4 linked regions of the Homo sapiens genome follow. The protein of the gene in region 2 purifies or fractionates together with the protein of the main gene of each other region. This does not show direct contact. Each region holds a gene or a part of one and is shown on either strand. Other genes may lie near its edges.

Region 1 (7,628 bases), on a different chromosome or scaffold from region 2:
TTTGCCTCCCAAGTTCAAGCGATTCTCCTGCCTCAGCCTCCCGAGTAGCTGGGATTATAGGCATGCACCACCACACCCGGCTGAAGTATTTTTAGTAAAGATGGGGTTTCACCATGTTGGCCAGGCTGGTCTGGAACTCCTGACCTCAAGTGATCCGCCCACTTTGGCCTTTCAAAATGCTTGGATTACAGGTGTGAGCCACTGCACCCTGCCCAAGAGCTCTAATTTTTAAATAGCTTATTTACAAAGCACTCTATGCTTCAGGTCAAACATTTGTCAAGCATCTGCAATATGCCAAGAACTATACAGATTTCATTACCTAATTTTAAAATTAAATTAAGACCCAGAGAGGTAATAGGATCTATATAAGAATGCTCGAAATAGTGAAAATAGCCCTGTATCTGGAGGTTTAGCTCTGCCACTATCATGATTTCTACTGTACAATATACCCATGCAAGTCACTTTAAATTATTTCATAGGTTAAAGGCCTTTTTACTAAAAAAGAAAGAAAAAATTTTAAATTAAGTCCTTACTCGTGCCAGGACCTGTGCTAAAGTGTGTGTGTGTGTGTGTGTGTGTGTGTGTATATATATAACGTTTCTCATTTAAATCTCCTGAAACCTCTGTAAGATAGGTTCTGTTATTATCCCCATTTTACAGATGGAAACATGAGCTTAGAAATGCTAAGTCACTAGCTAGAAATAATGCAGCTAGTAGGTGACAATTATTTGAATAGAGTCTGACATCAGAGACTGTACTCTTTAAAGCACACACACAGTATTTGGATACTCTTGTATCACAGATAATATAGGGAATTTCAACATGTAAAACAATTCAATTAGTTCACAATTTTAGTCAATTTGGTACATATCATTCACATGCTTATAAACAGAAAATAATAGGAAAAATCAGTCAACAAACACCTGGGGAGAGAGGGAAAAGGCAACTTCATTTCTCTTTTGATAGGATTCTAAATACCACAAATAGGAGAAAACAGCCAAATCAAAAGTTAGGAAATCTGTAACTTCAACCTTCATAAAGCGTAAAGTGTGTCTTTAAGAAGCAAAGATTTAGGGAAGTGCCATTTGGGCACCTCTCACTCTCAAAAATGAGAGAGCTGTTCTCCTTTTTCTTTTTTTTTTTTTTTGCGACAGAGTCTCATTCTGTCACCTAGGCTGGAGTGCAGTGGTGCGATCTTGGCTCACTGCAACCTCCGCCTCCCGGGTTCAAGTGATTCTCCTGACTCAGCCTCCTGAGTAGCTGGGATTACAGGCGCATGCCACCATGCCCGGCTAATTTTTGCATTTTTAGTACAGACAGGGTTTCACCATTCTGATCAGGCTGGTCTCAAACTTCTGACCTTGTGACCCACCTGCCTCGGCCTCCCAAAGTGCTGGGATTACAGGTGTGAGACACCGAGCCCGGCCCTGTTCTCCTTTTTCTTTCTTTTGCCTATTAAACCTCTGCTCTTAAAACGCACCTCCCCCTCTGGCCCTGCCCCCCCCCAAAAAAAGAGGCAAAGATTTAAAAAGTTAACAGGAAAAGACTACTTTATCACATTTAGCTTGAATGCTAAGTAGTAACATTTACTAAGGTCCACAGTTTACTGCTTACTACACAGTTTACCACTTTACTACACAATAACCCACCCTGGACTGATGGCTTCTTCAGGAACACTGAGAGAATGTAAAATACAGGAATCCTGATAATTCTGCATTCTTCGAGCAATCATTATAATCAAGCTGATGTTTTTATCCGTCATCATTGTGTATAGTTCCTTTGTTGTAATTGCTCCTTTCTCTTTGGTCTCACATTTTTTCACTCTTTTCACCATTGCTCTTTTGGGTTTTGTCTTTGGAATCCAATACATTCTCCAAAGAAACTTTAGCCAATGTGCCACCATCCTCTCTTCCTGTTTCCTGCCTTTTTTGTTGTAGTTGCTGTGCTTCCTTCTGCCTGTCCTTTTCCTCAAGTTATTTCCGGACTTCAGCTTCTTTATATCTTAGTTTAAGGCTCTCAGAGAGTCTTTCAGCTTCTTCAATGGCTTTTTTGATGTTTGCAGTTCCAAGTATTGAATGGACGTAATCCTCTTAGTGCTTATTTTCTCTGGTTTAACTTCTGTCTTCTTATTGAGGTCTTTTAGTGAAGAACTCAGGTAGAGTTCTTTAGGAACTAAAGCCACAGCAGGCATGGTGAATTATCTTTACTTTTCCACGTTCACGATAGATGCTATATTTCCTTAAAAGTAGTTTTTTCCGTGGCGTCGGGTGCGCTTCACTAACACCAGCCTTCTTGCCAAAGGCCCATCTCCCAAGAACTCGAGGGAGAATTAGCCTTGGCTACCAAGATGGAATCCAGCCCAGCTCATCATCCTTTGCCCATTTTTAAAATTTTTTTTTGGTTGTGAGTTATAGGTATTCTTTATATATTCTGTATATTAACTCCTTATCAGATGTATTATTTGCAAATTTTTTCCCATTTCATGAGCTGCCTTCTCACTCTGTTCATAGCATCCTTTGATGTGCAAAAGTTTTAATTTTGATGTAGTTAAATTTATCTGTTTTTTCTTCTGTTACCTATCTTTTTTTTTTTTTTCCCTGAGATGGAGACTCACTCTGTCGCCCAGGTTGGAGTGCAGAGGCACAATCCTGGCTCACTGCAATCTCTGCCTCCTGGGTTCAAGCGATTCTTCTGCCTCAGTCGCCAGATTAGCTGGAATTACAGGCACGTGCCACCATGCCTGGCTAATTTTTGTATTCTTAGTAGAGACCAGGTTTCACCAGGTTGGTCAGGCTGGTCTCAAACTCCTGACCTCAAGTGATCCACCCATCTCAGCCTCCCAAAGTGCTGGGATTAACATGCGTGAGCCACGGCGCCCGGCCTGTTACCTATCTTTTGGTGTCCCTTTTCAATTGTTTTGAATCCTACTTAGCCCATTTCCTATATTAAGCCTTCTCAGACAACACTGAGAACTTCATCCTCTGTACTCCCACTAGTTTCTAAGCTGCCTGAGGGCGATGACTTATTTTGCAACCTCCCTTCAAATGAGAGGCCCTACGTTATCTCCCTTGAAAAGGGTTCACTTAATAAATCTAAGTTTACAGAGTGACAGCAAATGCCATTTGCTCAGTTAATAGCTGATGAATGAACAGATGAACGAATGAATGATGACTGAACACAGTGACACACAGATACGTCTCTGTCCACTTGAGATAATCCTGACCTCCTCAGATAAACCAGTGTATGCAAGGTTCTGGGCATCTTCTGGTGGGCTCAGGGAAACTGAGAATTGGATTGTCCTCTCTAGTATATTATGAAGTTGATCATTTAAGATGATGGGTCTCTGAGCCAGAGCCTGAGAATTACTTAATTTAAAAACAGATGAGAAGGTGGCACCTGGGTCTTTTTAATCTACTTCCACTGCACATGAGGAGATGAAATAGAACTGGTACTACTTACAAGGGTTTATAAAAGTTGATTTTAGTAGGTCTGTCCTCTCAGCTAGGCAGAGAACACTTGTATTTTCAGGTATTACCCGAATTTAAGCAACAGATGTGTTCCTAAAATTAACTAACTTATTTGTTTTATGATCATTTGTTCAGCACCCAATAACATCTAACTTTCAAGAGCTTATCCTATATACATGTCAGGCACCGTGCTAGGTGCTTTAAAAGCATCTGTCTTTTAATTCCCCCAGAAATCACAAGATGATATTATTCCAATGACAGAGATGAGGAAACTGAGTCTTAAGGAAATTAAGACTTCTTAATTTCCTCCGCTCTTAATTTCCTCCGCCTGTTGGTCATACATCTAATAAGTGGCTGAGGTGGGATTCACACTCATGCATTGCTTCTTCCTAGGGTAGAATCCTTATTCAGTATGCTGCCCACTATGTGCTAGATGCTACAGACACAAAGATATCAAGCAGATATCACCACCCAAGTGCAGTGCTAGAGACAGGCACAGCAGATTAGGGGAACATCAAGGAGGGCCACCAACTCTTTATAGGTGTTTAGTGAGCTGGGAAAGTCTGAGGAAGGAGGGTTGAGCTAGGTCTTAGAGGAAAAGGAAGTTCTGGAAAAATAGAGTGGACACTCAGTTGTTCTGCCAGCCCGGCACCATGTCTGGGAATACCATCCCTCTTCTTTTGGGAACCTTCCCACCAAGGGATTCCTCCATAATCTTACAAAATCCCTGATTCTGGTTGATTGGTTTAGCACTAGATGCCAACCTAAACCAAGGCCAATCAAACCCAAACTCTGAACAGACATCCATCCTTATCTAGTGGTAGAAGTTGAAGGATGAAACCCAGGGGCTATTGGGAGCTGTTTCCCAAGTGATTTTCTTTTGGGATCAGGATGATCCAGACCCAGTTATCTAGAGATTTTAACCGGAAATATTGGATATGACCTCCATCCGGTTCCGGCTTGGGCAGCCAGACCGGACTTGCAGGCTCTTGGAGGTCGCATCCTGTCCTTCCCCCGGCAGGTAGAGTGACTACAAGTCCCGGGATGCGCAGCGCTCGGAGTCGGGCGGGGGCCGGGCGGACCTCTACGGTGACGTCACCGTCCCGGGGCGGGCCAGGGGAGGGCGGGGCGGAGGGGCGGGTCTCAAGGCGGCAGAGCGCGCTGGTGCTGATGCAGGATGGCTGAGCGCGCAGGAGCCCGGGAGGTCTGAGCCGGGCGAGGCTCGCTCCCTGCGCATCGCCTCCTCCGCCCGCCGCGTGGTCGCGGGCAGGTGGGCCGGGGGGCGCTGGGCAGGGGCGGGGCAGGGCCAGGGCAGGCCGGTCTGCAGCCGGAGGGGCCGGAGCGGAGAAGCTGCCCACCTTCCCGGGCTCGGAGCGGCCGGGGCTGCTCAGCCGGCCGGGCTCGCGATGACCTGCTGAGAAGCGTCGTCGGAGGCTGCAGGAGGCGGCCTAGCTGTGGGCGGTGCAGCTCGCGGCCTCCTCCCTCGTCGTTCCCGGCCCCGGCCCCCCACCCATCCCCGTGCCCCCTCCCTACCGCCGGCCGAGATGGCGGATCCAGCCGAATGCAGCATCAAAGTGATGTGCCGGTTCCGGCCCCTCAACGAAGCGGAGATCCTCCGCGGGGACAAATTCATCCCCAAATTTAAAGGCGATGAGACCGTGGTGATCGGGGTAAGTGGCTGGGGCGTCTGCCTTCCCTGCTGCTCCGCGCCGCAGCTGGGCGCCCCGACGCCCCAGACGCAGCGGAGGTGTTTAGGCCGCCCCCTCGGACATTCCCGCGGGGCTGGCCTCTCGGGTGGACCTGACCAGAGACCCCTCGCCCCGCGCACTATGGTTCCCTCCCGGGCGGGTGGAGAGGCGGCCGGGAGCGGCGGGCCGGGCGGGGGTGGCGGGGGTGGGGATGGGGGGCGAAGACGGGCTCGGCGCCGCCATTGTTCGCCGGGTGGGGGCCCGGGTGGGCCCATTGTTCCCCACGCTCGCCTCGCCGCGTGGGTAGTGTGTTCGGGTGACCCTCAAGCCGGGTGCCCAGGCCCCCTTTAAAGTGTGAGCTCTGCAACCCGCAAATGCTTCTGGGCATCAATCAATTCGATTTACCAAACGCCTTGCCTCTTCTTCTCACGACCCTAGCAAAAAAGAAAGAAAAAGGGGTACAGGAAAATTTCTAGTCGCGTCTCGGAGCTCCCGCGGCAGTGTAGACGCGGCTCCCCGCGGTGTTACACCTGGCTCCGCGCGCGGAAGGCGGAGGGTTGGGGGAGTACTGGTGGCCTCGGTGTCCCCTGGAGGCCTGGTGTGTCTCCCGCTTCCTCTCACGCCTGGCTGCCCTGGATGTGGAGTCCCGGCTTGATCCCTCCCCTCTGGGATGACCTCCCTCCCATGTCTGCAGACCCTCTGATGCGCCTCACGCTGGGTGGAGAGGAGGCTGTGTCCACATCTGTGGGGCGAGGGGGCTCAGAGCGCAGTAGCCCCCTGTGCCAAGAGCAGAAGTTACTTCGTGCGGCTCGGACCCCCCTCCCTCTCTATCTCCCTTCCCCACCTTTTCTCCCCCACCCCCTCCCCCTACTTAGCTCCCTCTCTGCAGCTGGGGCTGCTGGTAGGGGGAGGGAACACCAATGGATTGTAGTTCTTAAAGGAATCTGTCAGATGAAACAAACCAGCTCGGTCCCCCGCCCCTTCCCCGCCCGCTGTCCGTAGCGTGTGTGGCTGATGGTGCCCCCTTTGTATGCGAGCCGCGTGGGGAGGGACCGAGTTAATGGGAGCCTCCCGGTCCCCGCTGACACGTTCCTGGCAGCCTGCTCCAGGCTGCTGATGCAGCCTTCCCGTCCCCAGCATTGATTAAGTGATGTCATCCTGATCACTGAGCATGCTCCGACTAACCCCCTCCTCCCCTTCCTCCAGTGGCTGGTGTATTTAGGTCAAGTGATTGACAGGTGACAGTTTACCGAGGGTATTGCAGGAGTCCGCCTGGCCTTTCTCAAGCGCCAGAGGCCGACGTTTTCCAGCCCGGGCGGTCCCCAGCATCTTTGCCAAGGTTGTCTGCCGCAGTCGCAGCGAAGGGCCCTGGGGACCAGCAGGTGCCAGCTGTACCGTAAGGCGGGAGCTCTCCACGCTAGAGGAGCCTGGGCAAGGCTCTGGCCTCAGGGCTTTAACCTGTACCTGGCTTTAAAAGGCTGCTCCCTTTGACGACCTCTTCTCACCTCCCCATTTTCACAGTCATCAGGAACGTCTGACCTCCAAACGCTGTGTGGATGGGCGATCATTCTGCGAGCTGACCTATGAGGGCAGGAAAGCGGGGTTTTCTCTCTGTTTAGTGTTAAACTTGCAGAGAAGATATAAGCTACGATTATTGATGAGGAAGGAAATTCTGCAGTTAATGGCAGATAAGTGTTAGTGACATATACATAGGCAGTACCTGGGGCAGTTAGTGACTTATTTGGTTTACAGCTCTCAGCCAGTATCTGCCTACAGCCTGATCTGCTACTTTCTGAGCCAGGCTGTGGTTTAGATAGAGTGGGAGTTACTGGGGACATCTAGTCCCTGCCCCTTGGCTTGTAACAATTTTTAAACAAATAATTGTGCAGTACTGGAACATGTTCTGGCAACCCTATTTTTTTCCCAGAGGTTTTGAAGAGCCTGAAGAAGTTTTTCTTCTCCCCTCCTCCCTCCTCCCCCATCCCCTTTCCCCTCTCCCCTCTCCCTTCTCCTCCTCTTCTTCTTCCAGAACCAATGAAATGAAGTAATAAATCATCTTCCTTGACCTGTATGCAAGGCAGAGCTCCTTAATTTTAGAATTATCCTTCTTTAATATGACATTGCTATGAGTATATATTTCCTTATCTAAATAAACATATATTAGTGGCTAAACAAATTAAAACCAAGTCACCATATTAAATAAGAAGTTTAAATAAAAATCATAGATGTGAATATACACATTGCTTTTCAACCGTAAAGTAAGTTTTGCTCATCCTACTATAATCCTTTAATACAACAGTTTTCAGTTTTTCTAAGGTAAACTTTTTATTGAAATGAAGCATTCATATAGAAAACTGTTATCATAAGTATACAGTTGGATGACTTTTCATAAAGTAAATGCTCCCTGTAACCACCTCACAGACTAAGAAACAGACATTTTGGGACCCTAGAAATCCCCCTTGTGGCCCTTCCA
Region 2 (7,023 bases):
GGGTTACAAATAGACAATAGGGGAACAAGGGCAGAAACGAGGCCAGTGAGGAAGTTATTGTAATAATTTGGGTAGGAATTGATAGTGGCTTGGTCCAGGGTGACAGCAGTGGAGGTAGTGGGAAATTGGATTCAGGGTATGTTTTGAAGGTAGCACCACTGCTACACCCCCACCTTCTGGCTCCTCTGTGCCCCTGCCAGTCTTGCCACGTCCCAGTAGGCTCCCCTTCCACCTGTTCCTGAATACTCCCACCCAGAATCTGGAGCTCAGGGGATGTGCCCACCTAGGTGATGCTGGCTCTAGCCAGCCACCTGAGCACAGTGGAGTCGGAGAAACAGAAGCTGCGGGCTCAGGTGCGGCGGCTATGCCAGGAGAACCAGTGGCTGCGGGATGAGCTGGCTGGCACCCAGCAGCGGCTACAGCGCAGTGAACAGGCTGTGGCTCAGCTGGAGGAGGAAAAGAAGCACCTGGAGTTCCTGGGGCAGCTGCGGCAGTATGATGAGGATGGACATACCTCGGTGAGTGTGCACAGGCGAGACTGGCTGAGGGGTGGGCAGCCGGGAGTTACCACAGACATGGGGGCAATTGCCCCATCATCCTCAGGGTCCATCAGCTCTACCCAACCTGCTCTCACCTGAAAGAATTCCTTTTTCAGCCCTGACACCAACTCCAGGTGACAGCAAGGGGAAAAACAATATTCAGGTAATTCAGTCAACATTTAATGAGATGCCTACTGTGTACCAGGCATTGTGCACTGCACTGGTGAATGGGGCACACAGAGTTCCTGCTCTCACAATTACAAGCTTGTGAGGGAGATAGATAAGCACCTGGACAATTCCAATCCAGAATTCTACGTGGTACAATTAGGGAAAGCATAACCCAGTTGAGCATGACCCTCCTAAAATTTGCTTTCAAAATGTGTGAATTTTTTTTTTTTTTTTGAGACGGAGTTTCACACTTGTTGCCTAGGCTGGAGTGCAATGGTGCAATCTCAGGTCACAGCAACCTCCGCCTCCCGGGTTCAAGCAATTCTCCTGCCTCAGCCTCTTGAGTAGCTAGGATTGCAGGCACCTGCCACCACGCCTGGCTAATTTTTGTATTTTTACTAGAGACGGGGTTTCACCATGTTGGCCAGGCTGGTTTTGAACTCCTGACCTCAGGTGGTCTGCCCGCCTGGGCCTCCCAAAGTGCTGGGATTACAGGTGTGAGCTACCATGCCCGGTCCAAAATGTGTGAAATTTAACCCTCGCTCAACAGAATGCAGTGATGCCATCTCAGCTCACTGCAGCCTCCGCCTCTGGCTTTCAAACAATTCTTGGGCCTCAGCCACCCAAGTAGCTGGGATTACAGGTGTCTGCCACCACACCCGGCTAATGTTTGTATTTTTAGTAGAGATGGAGCTTTGCCATGTTGACCAGGCTGGTCTCAAACTCCTAGCCTCAAGTGATCTGCCTGCCCTCGGCCTCCCAAAATGCTGGGATTACAGGCGTGAGCCACCACGCCTGGCTGAGAGTGTGTGTTTTCTTGAGATGTATCTGTAGGGAACAAGTCTTATCCAGGAGAACATATATGTGACAAAATACAAAGCAGCAAGTGCTCAGTGCTGGATGAGTGGTTCAGTCAGTGTGGGAAGAATTTCACAGAGAAATGTCTCTGAGGGCTGGAATGGTCTAAGAAGAATTCATAGAGGAAGCAGGGAGCCTGGGCAACATAGTGAGACCCTGTCTCCACAAAAAATTAAAAAATTAGCCTGATGTGGTCGTGTGCACCTATAGCCTCAGCTACTCTGGAGGCTGAGGTGGGAGGATCGCTTGAGCCCAGGAGGTGGAAGCTGCAGTGAGCTGTGATTATGCCACTGCATTCTAGCCTGGGCTGTTGCCAGACTAGAGACTCTGTCTCAAAAAACAAACAAAAAAATAGAGGAAGCAGGATACAGGGATGGGTAGGATATAGGTTGGATTTCCCATTTGAGTGGGTTAGGAGTTGAGATGGATTTTGAAAGTTCATGATGAGGAAGAGGGAGCAGCTTTTTAGACTGGAGTGCAGGGTGTCATTGATAAGGCTTACAGCCTGGAAAAGCTGGTCTGTCCCAGGGAAAGTGAGTAGATGAATTGCATAGGACACATTGGTGAAGCTGGGTAGGAGGGTTGGTGTTTGGATGAGGCTGCAGTTCCTGATGGGGAAAAGCAGATTTTCCTAGTGCGGAATAGGTTAGACAGTGAGGGAGGGTTACGTAGTAAGTCCAGAATGAGCTGTGCAGATGATGGGCACCAGGCTGAGCTAGACACTTTCTGGGTACATGTCAATAAGATCGGCCACACTCCCTTCCCTCAGGAGAGACAGGACAGACATACAATCAACGTAAACACACAGAGATCAGCATAGGGCCATAATTACAAGAGTTAAGGCAAGATTGAGGGTGGTTAGAAAGGAAACTTTTTTTTTTCTTTTTTTTTTGTTTTGAGACAGAGTTTCGCTCTTGTTGCCCAGGCTGGAGTGCAATGGCATGATCTCGGCTCACCGCAACCTCTGCCTCCCAGGTTCAAGCGATTCTCCTGCCTCAGCCTCATGAGTAGCTGGGATTATAGGCATGCGCCACCACGCCCGGCTAATTTTGTATTTCTAGTAGAGATGGGGTTTCTCCACGTTGGTCAGGATGGTCTTGAACTCCTGACCTCAGGTGATCTGCCCACCTCGGCCTCCCAAAGTGCTGGGATTACAGGCGTTAGCCACCACACCCGGCCAGGAAGGAAACTTTCTGTATGAGAAGGAGGGGAAGTCTTGAGATTTTGTCCAAAGCATCTCTGGCTGTTACAAACAAGAGGCCTGAGCTTGGCTGGGCCACTTGCTAGCCTTTCCAGGGGCAGAGACAGGAACAACAGTCTTCTCCTAGGTCCCATCTGTCTGTGATTTCATGGCTTAGAGGGGTCACTGAGAAGGCTACTAGGTAGGGATATCTTGGCCCTTATATGTTGCTTCTTCCCTTCCAGGAGGAGAAAGAAGGCGATGCCACCAAGGATTCCCTGGATGACCTCTTTCCTAATGAGGAGGAAGAGGACCCCAGCAATGGCTGTGAGTCTGCCTCTGGAATGGGAGGGTGAAAAGGGGCAGCAGGAGGCTGGCCCTAGCTGTGGCCCACCCTGTACACAGGACAGTCACCATCTAGAAATAGGTTCTCCACTTTCTCTGGAGACAGGGCAGGGGCTGGGCTAGTACTTCGATTTCCTCAGCCTCCCCATTGAACGAACATGTATTAAGCACTGAATATGTGCCAGGTACTGTGCTAGGCACTAGGAGTACTGAGATGGAAATGGCATAGGTCTTACCAGTAAGGAGTTCACAGTCTAGTGGGAGAATAAACCTGAGACAGGGAGACCATGAGCCCCCCAAGGGAAAGAACCAGGTCTTTCTTACCTTTGTACTCCTGGAACATCCCTTGGTTCATACTTATTAAATAAATGTTTGTTGAATGCATGAATTACTGGGTGAACAACTGAGGTTGTGATGGGCATAGGTCAAGGGAGTGGATAAAAGAATAGCACTTGAGGCAGGTCTAATATTGAGAGTCCAGGTTGGGGTGGGCACAAGTATGGAACAAGACATGCAATGGGGAGTGGAAGGGCAGACAGCAAAGGGGAGAGGAAGAGTCCTTTGTTTATGTTCTGTGATGGTTTAGTGTCCCGTGGTCAAGGTGCTACAGCAGCTCAGCAGGGTGGATATGAGATCCCAGCAAGGTTGCGGACGTTGCACAACCTGGTGATCCAGTACGCAGCCCAAGGTCGCTATGAGGTGGCCGTGCCACTCTGTAAGCAGGCACTAGAGGACCTGGAGCGCACATCAGGCCGTGGCCACCCTGATGTCGCCACCATGCTCAACATCCTTGCTTTGGTGTATCGGTGAGGACTTCCCTCCTCCAGTGCCCAGATCTTCCCCCACATTCCCACCTTGGTCCTCCTTTGGCTTTCATTTTTCCTCTTTACAGGGTACCTCTCCTCCCTGTTGGGCCTCCCAGATACACCCCAACAGGGTGCTTCTTTATGTGCCAGAACTCTCACTTTTCCCATACCTAAGCATTTGCTCATCCCTTGGGATCCTTGTTCCTCTAATCTCTCTTCTGGGGAGTGCTCTCTCCCTCTCTTCCCCCTGCCCCCTTGCTTCTTATAACTTGTGGCCTCCTCTTGGGATGGCAGTGCCCTGCATTCTGGTATGAGTATGTCAGTGAAGCCCCCTTACTGTCCACGCCAGGCTTCCTGTCTCCTCATGGAGGTCTCCAATCCTTAAATGTACTCAGTCCTTCCAAAGGGAAGGAGGGAAGGAGAAGGCTTGCGGGTTCAGGGTAACTCCTGTCACTTTTGTCTTCTTCCAGTGACCAGAATAAGTATAAGGAAGCTGCCCACCTGCTGAATGATGCCCTTAGCATCCGGGAGAGCACCTTGGGACCTGACCATCCTGCTGTCAGTATTCCTTGCCCTCCCCACCCCACGCCCCGCACCCCCCACCATTGCTGTTTTGGCCTCTCTTAGCTCATCCATCTGCTGCCCTCAGTCCACTCACTAAGGGTGCTGAGGAAGGAGGCATAAGAAGTCCTTTCTTCCAGGCACTGTCCAGTGATCCTAATGATTCTCAATTCTCTGAGACTCAGTGACTCCTTTTTATAACAAATATTTTGCTTGAATTTAATTAATAGATAAGTCATAGGTAAATCCACATATGATTTCTACAAAACTTAATATGCTACTCTAATAAATATAAAAGAAAAACAAGAAAAGTAATTTGTAAGGACAATATATACAATGTAATATAATAAGGTAAAAATACAAAACAACAGTAGTTGTATTGAGTACAACTTTGTTAAAAGAAATAGCAAAGTGGCCTGGGCACAGTGGCTCACGAGTGTAATCCCAGCACTAATCCCAGCACTTTGGGAGGCTGAGGAGGGTGGATCACGAGGTCAGGAGATCGAGACCATCCTGGCTAACATGGTGAAACCCCATCTCTACTAAAAAAAATACAAAAAATGCCGGGCGTGGTGGCGGGCGCCTGTAGTCCTAGCTACTCGGGAGGCTAAGGCAGGAGAATGGCGTGAACCCGGGAGGCGGAGCTTGCAGTGAGCTGAGATCGTGCCATTGCACTCCAGCCAGGGTGACAGAGCGAGACTCCGTCTCAAAAAAAAAAAAAAAAAATGAAAATATAGGTGGACAGGCCGGGCGCGGTGGCTCACGCCTGTAATCCCAGCACTTTGGGAGGCCGAGGCGGGCGGATCACGAGGTCAGGAGATCGAGACCATCCTGGCTAAAACGGTGAAACCCCGTCTCTACTAAAAATACAAAAAATTAGCCGGGCGTAGTGGCGGGCGCCTGTAGTCCCAGCTGCTTGGGAGGCTGAGGCAGGAGAATGGCGTGAACCCGGGAGGCGGAGCTTGCAGTGAGCCGAGATCCCGCCACTGCACTCCAGCCTGGGCGACAGAGCGAGACTCCGTCTCAAAAAAAAAAAAAAAAAAAAAAAAAAAAGAAAATATAGGTGGACACTTTATTAAAGTACAGTATTATAAGAAATCACAAGGGTCGGGCACAGTGGCTCATGCCTGTAATCCCAGCACTTTGGGAGGCCAAGGTGGGCAAATCACGAGGTCAGGAGTTCAAGACCATCCTGGCCAACATGGTGAAACCCCGTCTCTACTAAAAATACAAAAATTAGCCGGGCGTGGTGGGGGGCACTTGTAATCCCAGCTACTCAGGAGGCTGAGGCAGGAGAATCACTCGAAACCAGAAGGTGGAGGTTGCAGTGAGGTGAGATCGCGCCTCTACACTCCAGCCTGGGCAGCAAGAGCAAAACTCTGTCTCAAAAAAAAAGAAAATAAATGACAGACCAGATTTATTTGTGTATAAGAGGAAGAGACTGGGCTTGGTGGCTCACGCCTGTAATCCCACCACTTTGGGAGGCCAAGGCAGGTCGATCACCTGAGGTCAGGAGTTTGAGACCATCCTGGCCAACATGGTAAAACCCCGTCTCTACTAAAAAAAAAATATAAAATTAGCCAGGCATGGTGGCATATGCCTGTAATCCCAACTATTTGGAGACTGAGGCAGGAGAATCATTTGAATCCGGGGGTTGGTGGTTGCAGCGAGCCGAGATCGCACCACTGCACTCCAGCCTGGGCAACAGAGCAAGACTCTGTCTCAACAAAATAAGAAGCGGCCCAGCGCTGTGGCTCACTCCTGTAATTTCAGCACTTTGGGAGGCCGAGGTGGTCGGATCACCTGAGGTCAGGAGTTTGAGACCAGCCTGACCAACAAGGTGAAACCCTGTCTCTACTAATAATACAAAAATTAGCCAGTTGTGGTGGCATGCACCTGTAGTCCCAGGTACTCGGGAGGCTGAGACAGGAGAATTGCTTGAACCCAGGAGGCTGAGGTTGCAGTGAGCCAAGATCGCACCATTGCACTTCAACCTGGGTGATGGGGTGAGACTTCATCTTAAAATAAATAAATAAATAAATAAATATAAATAAAAGGAAAGAGAGAAACAACCTTAAGTAGAGATATCACGCCAAGGCAAATGATAGAGTTGTCAATGTACAGAAAATGAAAAATGAAAAGTTTGTTTGTTTTGTTTTGTTTTGTTTTGTTTTTTGAGATGGAGTTTCGCAGTGTCACCCAGCCTATAGTGCAGTGGTACAATCTGGGTTCACTGTAATCTCTGCCTCCCAGGCTCAAGTGATCCTCCTGCCTCAGCCTCCCAAGTAGCTGGGATTACAGGTACGTGCTACCACGCCAGGCTAATTTTTGTATTTTTAGTAGAGATGGGTTTTCACCATGTTGGTCAGGCTGGTCTTGAACTCCTGACCTCAAGTGATCCACCTACCTCAGCCTTCCAAACTGCTGGGATTACAGGTGTGAGCCACCACACCCAGCTGAAAAGTTATTTATTTTTTGTTGAGATAGAGTTTCACTCTTGTTGCCAGGCTAGAGTGCAACATGGCACGATCTTGGCTCACTACAACCTCCACCTCCCGGGTTCAAG
Region 3 (7,023 bases), on a different chromosome or scaffold from region 2:
AGACTCCATCTCAAAAGAAAATAATAATAATAAAAATAAATAAATAAATACAAACTTAAAAAACAAAGCTTATGGGTCACTGTCCATTTGTCCCCCACAGGGTTGTACTGAACGCTTTGTGTCCAGCCCGGAGGAGATTCTGGATGTGATTGATGAAGGGAAATCAAATCGTCATGTGGCTGTCACCAGTGAGTGAGGATACAAGGGGATCTCTCGAGTCTGAGGATCCACTTGTGTTCTGTGTCCTCTGGGGTGGAGGGACTCAAAAGTGAGCAAGGAAACTGTACCCCCCAGAGGAGGAGGACCCCTTGTCTGTGGGACCCTGCTGCCTGGGAGATGTGGCAGCAGGGCTAGTCCTGGTGGGCACCTTCTCTCTGGGTGGGCGGGGCTGGGGTCAGTGGAAGCCGGGGGCTGAGGACCTCAGTTCTGCAGGGTGGTGCAGGTCCTGTTTCTCCCTTGCTCCTGCAGACATGAATGAACACAGCTCTCGGAGCCACAGCATCTTCCTCATCAACATCAAGCAGGAGAACATGGAAACGGAGCAGAAGCTCAGTGGGAAGCTGTATCTGGTGGACCTGGCAGGGAGTGAGAAGGTAGGGGGTCCTGTGGATATGGGGTGGGTGGAAGCCTTGGCTCTTTTTTTTTTTTTTTTTGAGACAGAGTCTCACTCTGTCGCCCGGGCTGGTTTGCAGTGGCACGATCTCTGTTCACTGCAACCTCCGCCTCCTGGGTTTAAGTGATTCTCCTGCCTAAACCTTCCAAGTAGCTGGGATTACAGGTGCCCACCACCACGCCTGGCTAATTTTTTGTATTTTTAGTAGAGAGGGGATTTCACTGTGTTGGCCAGGCTGGTCCTTGGCTCTTTTTTTTTTTTTGAGACGGATTCTTGCTCTGTCACCCAGGTTGGAGTGCAGTGGCACGCTCTCAGCTCACTGCAACCCCTGCCTCCCAGGTTCAAGTGATTTTCCTGCCTCAGCCTCCCTAGTAGCTGGGATTACAGGCTCCCGCCACCAAGCCCAGCTAATTTTTGTATTTTTAGTAGAGACGGGGTTTCACCATGTTGGCCAGGCTGGTCTCGAACTCCTGACCTCGGGATCCACCTGCCTCGGCCTCCCAAAGTGCTGGGACTACAGGCATGAGCCACTGTGCCCGGCCGACTCTTTTTTAACTAAAAAATGATTTGCATTGGGATATAATTCACATACCATAAAGTTCACCATTTTAAAGTGCAATTCAGTTGTTTGTAGTATGTTCCCAAGGTTGTGCAACCATTACGCTATCCAATTCTAGAGCACTGTCATCTTCTATTCACAGTCACTCTCCATTGTCCCCTAACCCCATCCCCTGTCAACTTCTAATCTACTTTCTGTCTCTATGGATTTGCCTATCCTGAACATTTCATATAAATGGAATCATATGGCTGGGCACGGTGGCTCACACCTGTAATCCCAGCACTTTGCGAGGCCGAGGTGGGTGGATCACCTGAGGTCGGGAGTTCGAGACCAGCCTGGCCAACATAGAGAAACCCCATCTCTACAAAAAATGCAAAATTAGCTGGGCGTGGTGGCACATGCCTGTAATCCCAGCTGCTCAGGAGGCTGAGGCAGGATAACCGCTTGAACCTGGGAGGCGGAGGTTGTGGTGAGCTGAGATCGCACCATTGCACTCCAGCCTGCGCAACAAGAGTGAAACTCCATCTCAAAAAAAAAAAAAGGAATCATGTAATATGTGGCAGGGGTTAGGGGCAATGTGGTGTTTGACAAGACAGTTTAGGGGAACAGAGGAAGGGCCTTCCCCAATCCCAGCCAAGCATCTCTGTTACTCCATCTTCTTCCCTGTTCCTTCCTTCCTCCGTGGACTGAGCCCTGGAACGAGGTGGTGACAGCCCTCTCCATGTGCAGCTGCTCATACACACTCATCTCTTACTGCCCTGGTAGGTCAGCAAGACTGGAGCAGAGGGAGCCGTGCTGGACGAGGCAAAGAATATCAACAAGTCACTGTCAGCTCTGGGCAATGTGATCTCCGCACTGGCTGAGGGCACTGTGAGTGATCCTTAGGTCCCCTCACCCCTCAAGCCACACCCCATCTCCTCCCCCACCTGCTAATGCCACCATATGATCATGCCCCAATTCATGGGTTGTCTGATCCCGGGGTGGCACCACTATCCTTTCTGATTCCCTGTTGAATTTTATTTGTTTATTTCTGATTCCTGGTCTCCTTCCTCCCCCAGAAAAGCTATGTTCCATATCGTGACAGCAAAATGACAAGGATTCTCCAGGACTCTCTCGGGGGAAACTGCCGGACGACTATGTTCATCTGTTGCTCACCATCCAGTTATAATGATGCAGAGACCAAGTCCACCCTGATGTTTGGGCAGCGGTCAGTGGCAGGGTCCCCAGAGGGATCCCTGGTACCCAGCTTCCCATCCCAGCCTCTGCGGCTCTCTCTCCTCAGGGTCACCCAAGTCTCATGTTGCTCTCATTTCTTTGTTCCTCTTCTCCTCACCCAGGGCAAAGACCATTAAGAACACTGCCTCAGTAAATTTGGAGTTGACTGCTGAGCAGTGGAAGAAGAAATATGAGAAGGAGAAGGAGAAGACAAAGGCCCAGAAGGAGACGATTGCGAAGCTGGAGGCTGAGCTGAGCCGGTGGCGCAATGGTTAGAGAGGGATAGGTGGGAGTGAGGGGCAGTGGGAAGAGGAGGAGGATGTTTGGGAGCCAACTCTGTTTGGGTGGTGTTTCTGGCCAGGCCAATCTCCTAGAAGAGGGGCTGTGTTTCTGGACAGGTGCAGTAGAGCAGTCATGGGGGAAGGGAGGGGCCTGACTACCTACCTCCCATACTCCCAAAAGGTAGAGGGTCCACCTGGCAAGAGAGTTCAAGGGGCATGGTGAGTGAGAAGGAAGAACTCGTGGATGCAGCTTCTTCTTCTTCCATCTCTCACCTCGTCTTGCCCCTTTGCAGGAGAGAATGTGCCTGAGACAGAGCGCCTGGCTGGGGAGGAGGCAGCCCTGGGAGCCGAGCTCTGTGAGGAGACCCCTGTGAATGACAACTCATCCATCGTGGTGCGCATCGCGCCCGAGGAGCGGCAGAAATACGAGGAGGAGATCCGCCGTCTCTATAAGCAGCTTGACGACAAGGTGAGGGCGGCCAGGCAGGGCACTGAGGCACGCCAGGTGGGATGAGAGGTAGACGATCAAAGAAAATCGCTTATATTGCCTCTTTCTGGTTTTAAAAGGGATAAATGCTTATGCTTGAAATGTGGAAACATCAATATAAATGTATGTAAGAAAATTAAAATCATCCACTATTCAGAGATAACACTCAACATTTTGCTTTTCTCTGTGCATATACCATGCAATTGAGTTATACTGTATAAGTAATTTTTTTTTTTGAGACAGGGTCTTGCTGTGTCGCCCAGGCTAGAGTGCAGAGGCACGATTGTGGTTCACTGCAACCTCTGCCTCTCGGGTTCAAGTGATTCTCCTGCCTCAGCCTCCAGAGTAGCTGGGATTACAGGCGCATGCCACCACGCCTGGCTAATTTTTGTATTTTTGGTAGAAACGGGGTTTCACCATGTTGGCTAGGCTGACCTCTGGCGATCCGCCCGCCTCGGCCCCCTGAAGTGCTTGGATTACAGGCGTGAGCCACCGTGCCCGGCCTGTATATGTAATTATACATCTGATTTTTTTCATTCAGCATTATATTATGCACAATTTCCTACTTCATTAATAATTCTTCATAAAAGTATTTTTATTTTCATTTATTATTATTATTTTGCTTTGAGAGAAAGAGTCTTGCTTTGTTACTCGGGCTGAAGTGCAGTGGTGCAGTAATAGCTCACTGCAACCTCAAACTCCTGGGCTCGAGGGATCCCCCCCAACCTCAGCCTCTGAAAGAGCTGGGACTACAGGTGCACACCACCACGCCCAGCTAATTTTTTTTTTTTTTTTTTTTTGGTAGAGTTGGAGTCTCACTTTGTTGCCCAGGCTGGTCTCAAACTCCTGGCCTCAAGCGATCCTCCCGCCTTGGCCTTTCAATGCGCTGGGATTAAAGGCATGCACCACCAGGCTAGCTAATATTTTAAATTTTTTGTAGAGACAGGGTCTCACTATGTTGCCCAGGTTGGCCTTGAACTCCTGGCTTCAACCGATCTTCCTGTAGGATATGGGGTTTCTAACTCAAAGCTTATACTATCTGGATTTTTATCAGGATCCTGCCTCTACCCCCAAACTTCTTACGTCTAAACTGGAAGGAGTAGCTTCCCTTCACCTGTCTTTCCCTGTTGCCTCCAACAGGATGATGAAATCAACCAACAAAGCCAACTCATAGAGAAGCTCAAGCAGCAAATGCTGGACCAGGAAGAGGTAATAGGAGGGAGGGCAGGACATGAGAGGAAAGGGGTTCTGTTCATCACTGGAAGGCATGGAATAGACCTTTTTAAAATCAGATGGAAGAAGGCGCTTTCTGCTTGGGGATTAATCACTCCCCTAAACAGCAGAAGTCTGGGAACCTCACTGGGGCTTTTCTTTTCTTTTCCTTTTTTCTTTTCTTTTTTTTTTTTAGAGATGGAGTCTCAATTTGTTACCTAGGCTGGAATGCAGTGGGGCAATCTCAGCTCACTGCAGCCTCGATCTTCCAGGGTCAAGCAGTCCTCCTGCCTCAGCCCCCTAAGTAGCTGGGACTACAAGTGCACCACCACACATGGCTAATTTTTGTAGAGATGGAGTTTTGCCATGTTACCCAGGCTGGTCTCGAACTCCTGAGCTCAGGCAATGTGCCCACCTAGGCCTCCCAAAGTGCTGGGATTACAGGCGTGAGCCACTGCGCCCGGCTGGGGCTTTTCTTAAAGCACAAATTTTAAAGTCTGGGGGCTTCTTCATTCTTCATTCTGTTGCCCTATTTCTATGAAACCTAAAGCCCACTTCCTCTTAACTCTTTATTTTGGGTAGGGTGGGGGCTCAGCTTCCCAGACCCAAGGCCATAGAAATGGTCACTGGCAGTGATCTTTCCCACATGCCACTCCTCTCCCTTGAAGCTGCTGGTGTCCACCCGAGGAGACAACGAGAAGGTCCAGCGGGAGCTGAGCCACCTGCAATCAGAGAACGATGCCGCTAAGGATGAGGTGAAGGAAGTGCTGCAGGCCCTGGAGGAGCTGGCTGTGAACTATGACCAGAAGTCCCAGGAGGTGGAGGAGAAGAGCCAGCAGAACCAGCTTCTGGTGGATGAGCTGTCTCAGAAGGTGGTAAGTGGTGTGCCAATGGTCCAACAGCTCCCTGACCACAGAACATCTCCCATGTCGAGGGGACCTCTGCATCCTTCCAGGGCTGTATGGTGGCTGCACCTCTGCACTGCTGTTCAGTGCATTGTGAGTCCCTCCCCAACCCTGTCACTGCACTTTCCCCTCACAGTCCCTCTGTCTTTCAGACTCTTCTGCAGGGCCTGTGTTCTCTTCATAGCAGCCCTCAGGGTCTTGCATGAAGGGAGAGGCCTCTGCCTGGGCTGGGCAAGGGAGCAGGAGGATGGCAACAGGAATGACCTGAGGGGCTGTCCCCAGGCCACCATGCTGTCCCTGGAGTCTGAGTTGCAGCGGCTACAGGAGGTCAGTGGACACCAGCGAAAACGAATTGCTGAGGTGCTGAACGGGCTGATGAAGGATCTGAGCGAGTTCAGTGTCATTGTGGGCAACGGGGAGATTAAGCTGGTGAGTGGTGAGAGACAGCAGCCTTGTTCAGGCTGGGCACTAGTGGAAGACGCAAGATGAGCCATCCAGGCCTTCACAGATACTGAGAAAGGCAGCCAGAGAGCCAGGAAACATGCCTTTGAACTAGACCCAGGAAGACAGGTAGAGGCTTGTATAGACCCAATTGAAAAGATACATTCTAGGTTGGGCGCAGTGGCTCACCGCTGTAATCCCAGCACTTTGGGAGGCCGAGGCAGGCGGATCACTTGAGGTCAGGAGTTCGAGACCTGACCTCGCCAACATGGCGAAACCCTGTCTCTACTAAAAATACAAAAATTAGCCAGGCGTGGTGATGTGCACCTGTAATTCCAGCTACTCAGGAGACTGAGGCAGGAGAATCGCTTCAACCTGGGAGGTAGAGGTTGCAGTGAACTGAGATCACACCACTGCACTCTAGCCTGGGTTATAGAGTGAGACTCTGCCTTAAAAACAAAACAAAACAAAACTAAATTCTAACGGGTGCTGAATAAAGAAGCAATGGAGGCCAGGCATGGTGGTTCATGCCTGTAATCCCAACATTTTGGGAGGCTGAGACAGGCGGATCGCTTGAGCCCAGGAGTTCACGACCAGCCTGGGTGACATAGTGAAACCCTATCTCTACAAAAAATACAAACGATTAGCTGGGGGTGGTGGCACACACCTATAGTACCAGCTACTTGACAGGCTGAGGTGGGAGAATCACCTGAGTATGGGAGGTTGAGGCTGCAGTGAGACATGATTGAGCTACTGCAATCCAGCCTGGGTGACAGAGCCAGACCTTGTCTTAAAAAAAAAAAAAAAGAGGCTGTACATGGTGGCTCACGCCTGTAATCCCAGCACTTTGGGAGGACGAGGCGGGTGGATCACCTGAGGTCAGGAGTTCGAGACCAGCCTGTTCAACATGGAGAAACTCCGTGTCTACTAAAAATATAAAATTAGCCGGGTGTGGTGGCTCATGCCTGTAATCCCAGCTACTCACGTGGCTGAGGCAGGGGAATCGCTTGAACCTGGAGGCGGAGGTTGCAGTGAGCCGAGATTGCACCATTGCACTCCAGCCTGGGCAACAAGAGTGAAACTCCGTCTCAAAAAAAAAAAAAAAAAAATTTGGGAGGCCGAGGCGAGGTCAGGAGATTGAGACCATCCTGGCTAACACAGTGAAACCCTGTCTCTACTAAAAAAATACAAAAAATTAGCCAGGCATGGTGGCGGGCGCCTGTAGTCCCAGCTACTCAGGAGGCTGAGGCAGGAGAATGGCGTGAACCTGGGAGGCGGAGCTTGCAGTGAGCAGAGATGCGGCACTGCAC
Region 4 (7,023 bases), on a different chromosome or scaffold from region 2:
CTGCACTCCTTCCTAGGTGACAGAGTGAGACTCTGTCTCCAAAAAAAATAATAATAATTCATGTGTAAGTTATTCTTTGGACATAAATTTTCAGTTCAGTTGAGTAAAAATACCTAGAAGTGCTAGGTTGTACGTTATGACTATGTTAGCTTTGTAAGGAACTCCCAAATGGTCTTCCAAAGTGGTGGAAACATTTTGCATTCCTATCAGCCATGAATGAGAGTCTGCTGTTCCACATCATTGCCAGTGTTTGCTCTTGTCAGTTTCTTGGGATTTTACTAATGTATGGTGTTATTTTATTGTCATTTTAATTTGCAGTTGTGTTTTTTCTTATTGTTGAGGTTTTCTTTTTCTTTGAGACGGAGTCTCGCTCTGTCACCCAGGCTGGAGTGCAGTGGCGTGATTTTGGCCCACCATAACCTCCGCCTCCTGGGTTCAAGTGATTCTTCTGCCTCAGCCTGCCAAATAGCTGGGAACACAGGCGCGTACCACCACGCCTGGTTAATTTTTATATTTTTAGTAGAGATGGGATTTCACCATATTGTCCAGGCTGGTTTCGAACTCCTGACTACAGGTGGTCCGCCTGCCTCAGCCTCCCAAAGTGCTGGTACTACAGGCATGAGCCACTGCGCCTGGCCCTGTTGTTGAGTTTTGTTTTGTTTTATTTTGAGATGGAGTCTCGCTCTGTCGCCTAGGTTGGAGTGCAGTGGCATGATCTCGGCTCACTGCAAGCTCCTCTTCCTGGGTTCAAGCAATTCTTCTGCCTCAGCCTCCCGAGTAGCTGGGACTACAGGCTCCCACTACCACACCTGGCTAATTTTTTGTATTTTTAGTAGCAACTGGGTTTCGCCATATTGGCCAGGCTGGTCTTGAACTCCTGACCTCAGGTGATCTGCCCGCGTCAGCCTCCCAAATTGCTGGGATTACAGGCGTGAGCCACCGTACCTGGCCTCCTATTGTTGAGTTTTAAGAGTTCTTCGGCCGGGCGCGGTGGCTCACGCCTGTAATCCCAGCACTTTGGGAGGCCGAGGCGGGCGGATCACGAGGTCAGGAGATCAAGACCATCCTGGCTAAAACGGTGAAACCCCGTCTCTACTAAAAATACAAAAAATTAGCCGGGCGTAGTGGCGGGCGCCTGTAGTCCCAGCTACTTGGGAGGCTGAGGCAGGAGAATGGCGTGAACCCGGGAGGCGGAGCTTGCAGTGAGCCGAGATCCCGCCACTGCACTCCAGCCTGGGCGACAGAGCGAGACTCCGTCTCAAAAAAAAAAAAAAAAAAAAAAAAAAGAGTTCTTCATATGTTTTGGATATAAGTCTTTTATCAGATAGTGTTTTGCATTATTTCTCTGTGTCTTGTTTTTTTTTTTTTGTTTTTTTTTTTTACTCTCAACGTCATTTTTTGAGACTAAAAATTTTTAATTTTAATGAGGTCCAACTTACCAAGTTTTACATTAATAGATTGTGTTTTTGGTATTGTATTTAAAAACTTGTCACCAAACCCAATATCACCTAGATTTTCTCCTGTGTTAAAAGTTTTTTTTTCAGTTTTGCATTTACATTTAGATCTATGATCCATTTGGAGTTAATTTTTCTGAAAGGGGTAAGGTGTGTACCAGGATTCATTGTTTCACATCTGGATGTCCAGTTGAAGAGACTGTCCTCCCTCCATTAAATTGCCTTTGCACCTTTGTCAGAGATCAGTTGACTGTATTTTGTGGTTTTATTCCTGGGCTCTTTATTCTGTTCTGTTAACCTGTTTATCTGTTCTTTGCCAGCACTGTACTGTTTTGATTATTATAGCTTTACAGTAAGTTGCATAGTGTCAAGTCCTGTGACTTTGTTTGTCCTTAGTGTTGTGCTAGCTATTCAGGGTCTTTTGACTTTACATGTAAACTTAATCATGTCATCTGCACAGTTTTATTTCTTCCTGAAGGTGAAGGAATATACAGTGACCACAATTCCTTCTGGTTGAGCTTAAAGTTCATCCTTTCCCTGCCACCTAAACATCCTCTTGTTAAATTTTAAGCTGAACGTGCACATGATTAACAATGAATTTACTGAAGAGGTCCTGTAAAGAGGAAGTGAAAAAATTGAAAGAGGCAGAATTTATTAGTTTGGTTGTATTTTTGTGTTTTCTTTAGGTTTACATTTATTTATTTTTCTTGTTGGCATGTATTAACATTATTCTCAGTTTTTAAAAAAAGGAAGGCAAAAAGTAAGCTGTATTTATTTACCTTTCGTTGAAAACAGTAATAAAAGAAAAAAATAAGATCCAGACTTTGTATGAATATTGAGTAATACTAAAATATATTTTATAAAAAGATTTTATAGCCTAATTGGGAAAACACACATTGAACATTTTTGGCTTTAATTTTTTATTTTACTTTTTCCTTACAGCAGCCTGAGGGAACTGGCATGATAGATGAAGAGTTCACTGTTGCAAGACTCTACATTAGCAAAATGAAGTCAGAAGTAAAAACCATGGTGAAACGTTGCAAGCAGTTAGAAAGCACACAAACTGAGAGCAACAAAAAAATGGAAGAAAATGAAAAGGAGTTAGCAGCATGTCAGCTTCGTATCTCTCAAGTATGTTATAGAACAAAGTTTATTCATTTTTTTGAAACAGCCACATAGAAATTTTATTTATTATACAAGTTTTCAGAAAAATGTGTGTCTATAGGTGAAATTTAGTTGTTTTTTTCCTAGTCTAGCTGCAGTAAATTTGAATGATTTAACTGAGTTATATTTGCCTAACATAAATATGGGTTATGTATAGAAATTTACCAGAATGATGTGACTGGTGGTAACTTGTTAAAGACTTCAGAATTCCAGGGTGGGCAAAACTGCAGGGAACCAGTTTCCTGGCTTGGCAACTGAATGAATGGGGCCATTCACCACTATCAGAATTTCACAAGGAGGGAAGATGGTAACGTTAGATGGTGGTATCTGTAAAATTAGTATTTCATATTTGAGTCTTCAGTGCCTTAGTTTGCAAGTTATGATCACCAATGAATTAATTGATTACATTCTTTAACATTTCAAAATTGGCTCCTGAATATTTTAGTTTTAAATATTCCCAAATTTATCATATATAGATAATGAAATGTTTACTGTCAAATATTCTTAAAGTGTATGCATATGTTTTCCACTTCATATCAGTATATTTTTTCCAAAAGCATGAAGCCAAAATCAAGTCATTGACTGAATACCTTCAAAATGTGGAACAAAAGAAAAGACAGTTGGAGGAATCTGTCGATGCCCTCAGTGAAGAACTAGTCCAGCTTCGAGCACAAGGTATAGCTTCCAACTGTTTATGAGTTACATCTGTGTTCTTATTTTAGTATAATTGTAGTAAACTTAATATTCACACTGAAAGAAATAGTAGGAATATGGCTGATTTCGAATGGTAAACAAATCATACATATTAATGTTGCTTTGAAACATTTTTTTGTTGTTGTTTTGAGACGGCGTCTTCACTCTGTTGCCCAGGCTGGAGTGCAGTGGCACTATCTTGACTCACTGCAACCTCCACCTCCTGGGTTCCAGTGATTCTCCTGCTGCAGCCTCCCTAGTAGCTAGGACCACAGGCACATGCCCCCACGCCTGGCTAATTTTTTACCTTTTTTGTAGAGACAGGGCTTCACCGTGTTACGCAGGATGGTCTTGATCTCCTGACCTCGTGATCTGCCTGCCTTGGCCTCCCAAAGTGCTGGGATTACAGGCATGAGCCACTGTGCCTGTCAAAACATATATATATATATTTTTAAGATTTTGTTTGAATATGGAAATAGCCAATCTGGGGATTTCCCACAGTTACGAAGCGGGGTGTGTGTGTGTGTGTGTCTTAACATAGGGGACTTAGGAGTTATCTCATTTCTTTACCATTCCCTTAACTAATCTGTTCTGGATTAGGCCAAAAAAAAAAAAACCAAACAAACCATAAAGGAATACATAATACCAACACAATGGATGTAACTTGTATACTAGTCTACATGTCATTGAACTTGGAGAGCAGGTGACATTTGGGTAATTTGAAGTTGAATATTGCTAAGGAAAATGCTTATTGTAAAATCCATTTGCTCCTTGGTTTATATGAGGAACCTTAAAGGCTTATTTCACTCTTCTATTTTCTCTCTATTCAAACAGAGAAAGTCCATGAAATGGAAAAGGAGCACTTAAATAAGGTTCAGACTGCAAATGAAGTTAAGGCAAGTTTGATGTCACATTTCTAACAGCTTTAATTAATCAGTATTAATTTTGATTAGTCTGACTTTAACATCCTTTTCCCCCCCAAAATTTTAGCAAGCTGTTGAACAGCAGATCCAGAGCCATAGAGAAACTCATCAAAAACAGATCAGTAGTTTGAGAGATGAAGTAGAAGCAAAAGCAAAACTTATTACTGATCTTCAAGAGTAAGTATTATACTTCTCTAGTTAGGAGGAAAGAATCGGTTACTGATGGTCATGGTATATATTCTTATTAGAAACCTGCAGTTTTCATCAAAATTACATTTTTATCTTGGAAAATAAAGAATTTTCTCATTTATGAGTAAAACTTCTAAATTCCAGGTGAAATTTTTGAGGCTTTTTTTTAGGTCTTTTGATCTAAATTATTCAGTAAAAGAAAAAAATCCCCAACCTAAGTCTATTATTGCATACCACAGTCTTCTCCAAATCCTTTATTTAGTTTCCTTTTTTAAAAAAATTCTTGGCTGGGTGCAGTGGCTGATGGCCTGTGACCCCAGTGCTTTGGGAGGCTGGGGTGGGAGGATCACTAGAAGTCAGGAGTTCAAGACCAGCTGGGCAACATAGTGAGACTCCATCTCTACAAAAAATAATTTTTTAAATTAGCTGAGCTTGGTGGCACATGCCTGTAGTCCCAGTGACCCAGGAGGCTGTGGCACGAGGATTGCTTGAGTATTGGAATCTGAGGCTGAAGTGAGCTATGATTGTACTACAGCCTGGGTGACAGAGCGAGACCCTGACTCAAAATTCTTAACTGGGAAAAACTTTTCTGGAAATTCTATGGATTTTCAAAGGTTTTTTTTTTTTTAAGTTGTCATCTTAGTTTATCTAGAAGCAATTTCCCTGCCTCCATAACCATGTGCACATACATAGAGTTTATGGAAGTCAGAGTTTGCAACAATTTGAGTAGGAACCAAGAAGAGAATAACATAACAAAATAATGATGAGGTTTGGGGCGTAGGTCTTACTATGAATACCTGATGGAAGTAGGCATAAGGATTCAGGAAGATGAAAGACAGAGGAGAACAGAATCATGATTTCAAACCAAAATACGAAAAATTTTGTATGTCCACAAGTAGCCAGGTCCCTTTCCTCTTTTCCTCCATAGGGTATAGGATAACAGAAAAGTCCTTGATGAGATTATAGAATTTAAAAGTTTGGAAATTTTAATGATGACATTGAGAAAACTGTGATATTGATACTGTGTTAATTATTTTTTTCTTTCGTCAGCCAAAACCAGAAAATGATGTTAGAGCAGGAACGTCTAAGAGTAGAACATGAGAAGTTGAAAGCCACAGATCAGGAAAAGAGCAGAAAACTACATGAACTTACGTGAGTAATTGTTTTTAATTAAAGTTTAAAAATAAAAGCTAAATTAGAGGATTATAGGCATTACCTTTGGATATAGCCAGTGGATACATATTTTACTTTGTATGGGCTAAAGGATTTTTTCTTAAATCCACTGAGTTGGTTTGATTTATATCTAAATACTTGGAATATATACTTGCATTTGAGTGAAAGCAAGGTCTTATATTTCATTGTGGTTAAGATTAAGGTTTCTCTTTATTAATCTGCTTGCTGTTTCTTTATCTCCATATTACTTCAGGATCCAGCATAAAAATGAACCTAAAACAATATATTAAGTAACTTCGAAGATTTTAAGATCTAACACAAAAACTGAGTTTTTGTTAAATTTTCTCTTGCATAAAAGAGCATTGTGGTGTTTAGCCTTGCCATTTTGAACAGAGGTTTTCATGGTTTACCTTTTCTCATTTTCTCAAAACTCAGTTTTCTAGAATCTTAGCAGGTAGAAAGTGCATGATTATAATTTTTCACATACCTTGAGTTTGTGAGACAATTTGCAAATCAACTGATATTGTTAGGATAGTTAGAACATCAGGACCAGTTCAGAGTGGATTATATGAAGATTCTGCTAACTTGCAGCTGTAATTTTGTTTAGAATACTTGTAATGTAAAATATTTTAGTCTTTGACAGTTTATAATCTATAATTAATCAGTATCATTTTGGATAAATAGCAGTATAATACATGTGGCATATTTTAAAATATAAATTATAGAACTATTCCTTATTCTTTGAATTCTGCCACATTTTATTTCATCTCTTCCATTGCTATATATGGAATGTATAACAATAGACTGTTGTTTAGAAGGCATATGAAAATTTTTTGAAATTGCAAAGCTGCAGTGGCTCACACCCATAATCTCAGCACTTTGGGAGGCCAGGGCAGGAGAATCAGTTGAGCCCAGTGTTTGAGAATCAGCCTAGGCAATATAGTGAGACCCCGTCTCTACAAAAATTTTTTTAGACAGGGCTGATTGTACATGCCTGTAGTCCCAGCTATTTGGGAGACGAGGTGAGGAGGATCACTTGAGCCCAGGAGGTTGAGGTTGCAGTGAGCAGTGTTTGGGACAGAAACTCTGTGTCAAAAAAAAAAAAATTTTTTTTTTGAAAGACAGCACAGGTAAATTGTTTAAAATAGGCATCTTGTATTTATTTAAATTTAAGAATTTATCCTTTCAGACACAAAATATTTTATTCAACTCTCATGCTAAGTACAATATACAGAATAAAATTTGAAAATATATGTTTGTTCTTCTACTGTTAGGGTTATGCAAGATAGACGAGAACAAGCAAGACAAGACTTGAAGGGTTTGGAAGAGACAGTGGTAAGAAAAACATGAAAATAAACAGGATTGGGAAATATTTTGTGGGTTTTTTCTACCATGATTATTCTAAATTTAAAGTCTGAGCTCCAAAA

What was found.
Region 1: the proteins of KLC4 (region 2) and KIF5C purify together in Homo sapiens (affinity purification with mass spectrometry; 2 studies listed by BioGRID and IntAct, with this or other methods). This does not show direct contact.
Region 3: the proteins of KLC4 (region 2) and KIF5A fractionate together in Homo sapiens (co-fractionation; 2 studies listed by BioGRID). This does not show direct contact.
Region 4: the proteins of KLC4 (region 2) and KIF5B purify together in Homo sapiens (affinity purification with mass spectrometry; 4 studies listed by BioGRID and IntAct, with this or other methods). This does not show direct contact.

The regions. Positions count from the first base shown.
Region 1 is NC_000002.12:148,870,607-148,878,234, forward strand, and holds the start of KIF5C (kinesin heavy chain), read left to right. Parts: upstream 1-4,620; 5' UTR 4,621-5,011; coding exon 5,012-5,137; exon of another isoform or gene 5,138-5,589; intron 5,590-6,405; exon of another isoform or gene 6,406-6,736; intron 6,737-7,628. UniProt on the Homo sapiens protein: Microtubule-associated force-producing protein that may play a role in organelle transport. Has ATPase activity. Involved in synaptic transmission. Mediates dendritic trafficking of mRNAs.
Region 2 is NC_000006.12:43,062,630-43,069,652, forward strand, and holds part of KLC4 (kinesin light chain 4), read left to right. Parts: intron 1-287; coding exon 288-518; intron 519-2,990; coding exon 2,991-3,072; intron 3,073-3,676; coding exon 3,677-3,896; intron 3,897-4,366; coding exon 4,367-4,454; coding exon of another isoform or gene 4,455-4,523; exon of another isoform or gene 4,524-4,768; intron 4,769-7,023.
Region 3 is NC_000012.12:57,567,026-57,574,048, forward strand, and holds part of KIF5A (kinesin heavy chain isoform 5A), read left to right. Parts: intron 1-100; coding exon 101-188; intron 189-468; coding exon 469-593; intron 594-1,937; coding exon 1,938-2,042; intron 2,043-2,230; coding exon 2,231-2,379; intron 2,380-2,509; coding exon 2,510-2,658; intron 2,659-2,961; coding exon 2,962-3,137; intron 3,138-4,295; coding exon 4,296-4,364; intron 4,365-5,035; coding exon 5,036-5,242; intron 5,243-5,554; coding exon 5,555-5,701; intron 5,702-7,023. UniProt on the Homo sapiens protein: Microtubule-dependent motor required for slow axonal transport of neurofilament proteins (NFH, NFM and NFL). Can induce formation of neurite-like membrane protrusions in non-neuronal cells in a ZFYVE27-dependent manner.
Region 4 is NC_000010.11:32,018,410-32,025,432, reverse strand, and holds part of KIF5B (kinesin-1 heavy chain), read left to right. Parts: intron 1-2,396; coding exon 2,397-2,585; intron 2,586-3,175; coding exon 3,176-3,293; intron 3,294-4,145; coding exon 4,146-4,207; intron 4,208-4,301; coding exon 4,302-4,411; intron 4,412-5,033; exon of another isoform or gene 5,034-5,473; coding exon 5,474-5,575; exon of another isoform or gene 5,576-6,870; coding exon 6,871-6,931; exon of another isoform or gene 6,932-7,023. UniProt on the Homo sapiens protein: Microtubule-dependent motor required for normal distribution of mitochondria and lysosomes. Can induce formation of neurite-like membrane protrusions in non-neuronal cells in a ZFYVE27-dependent manner.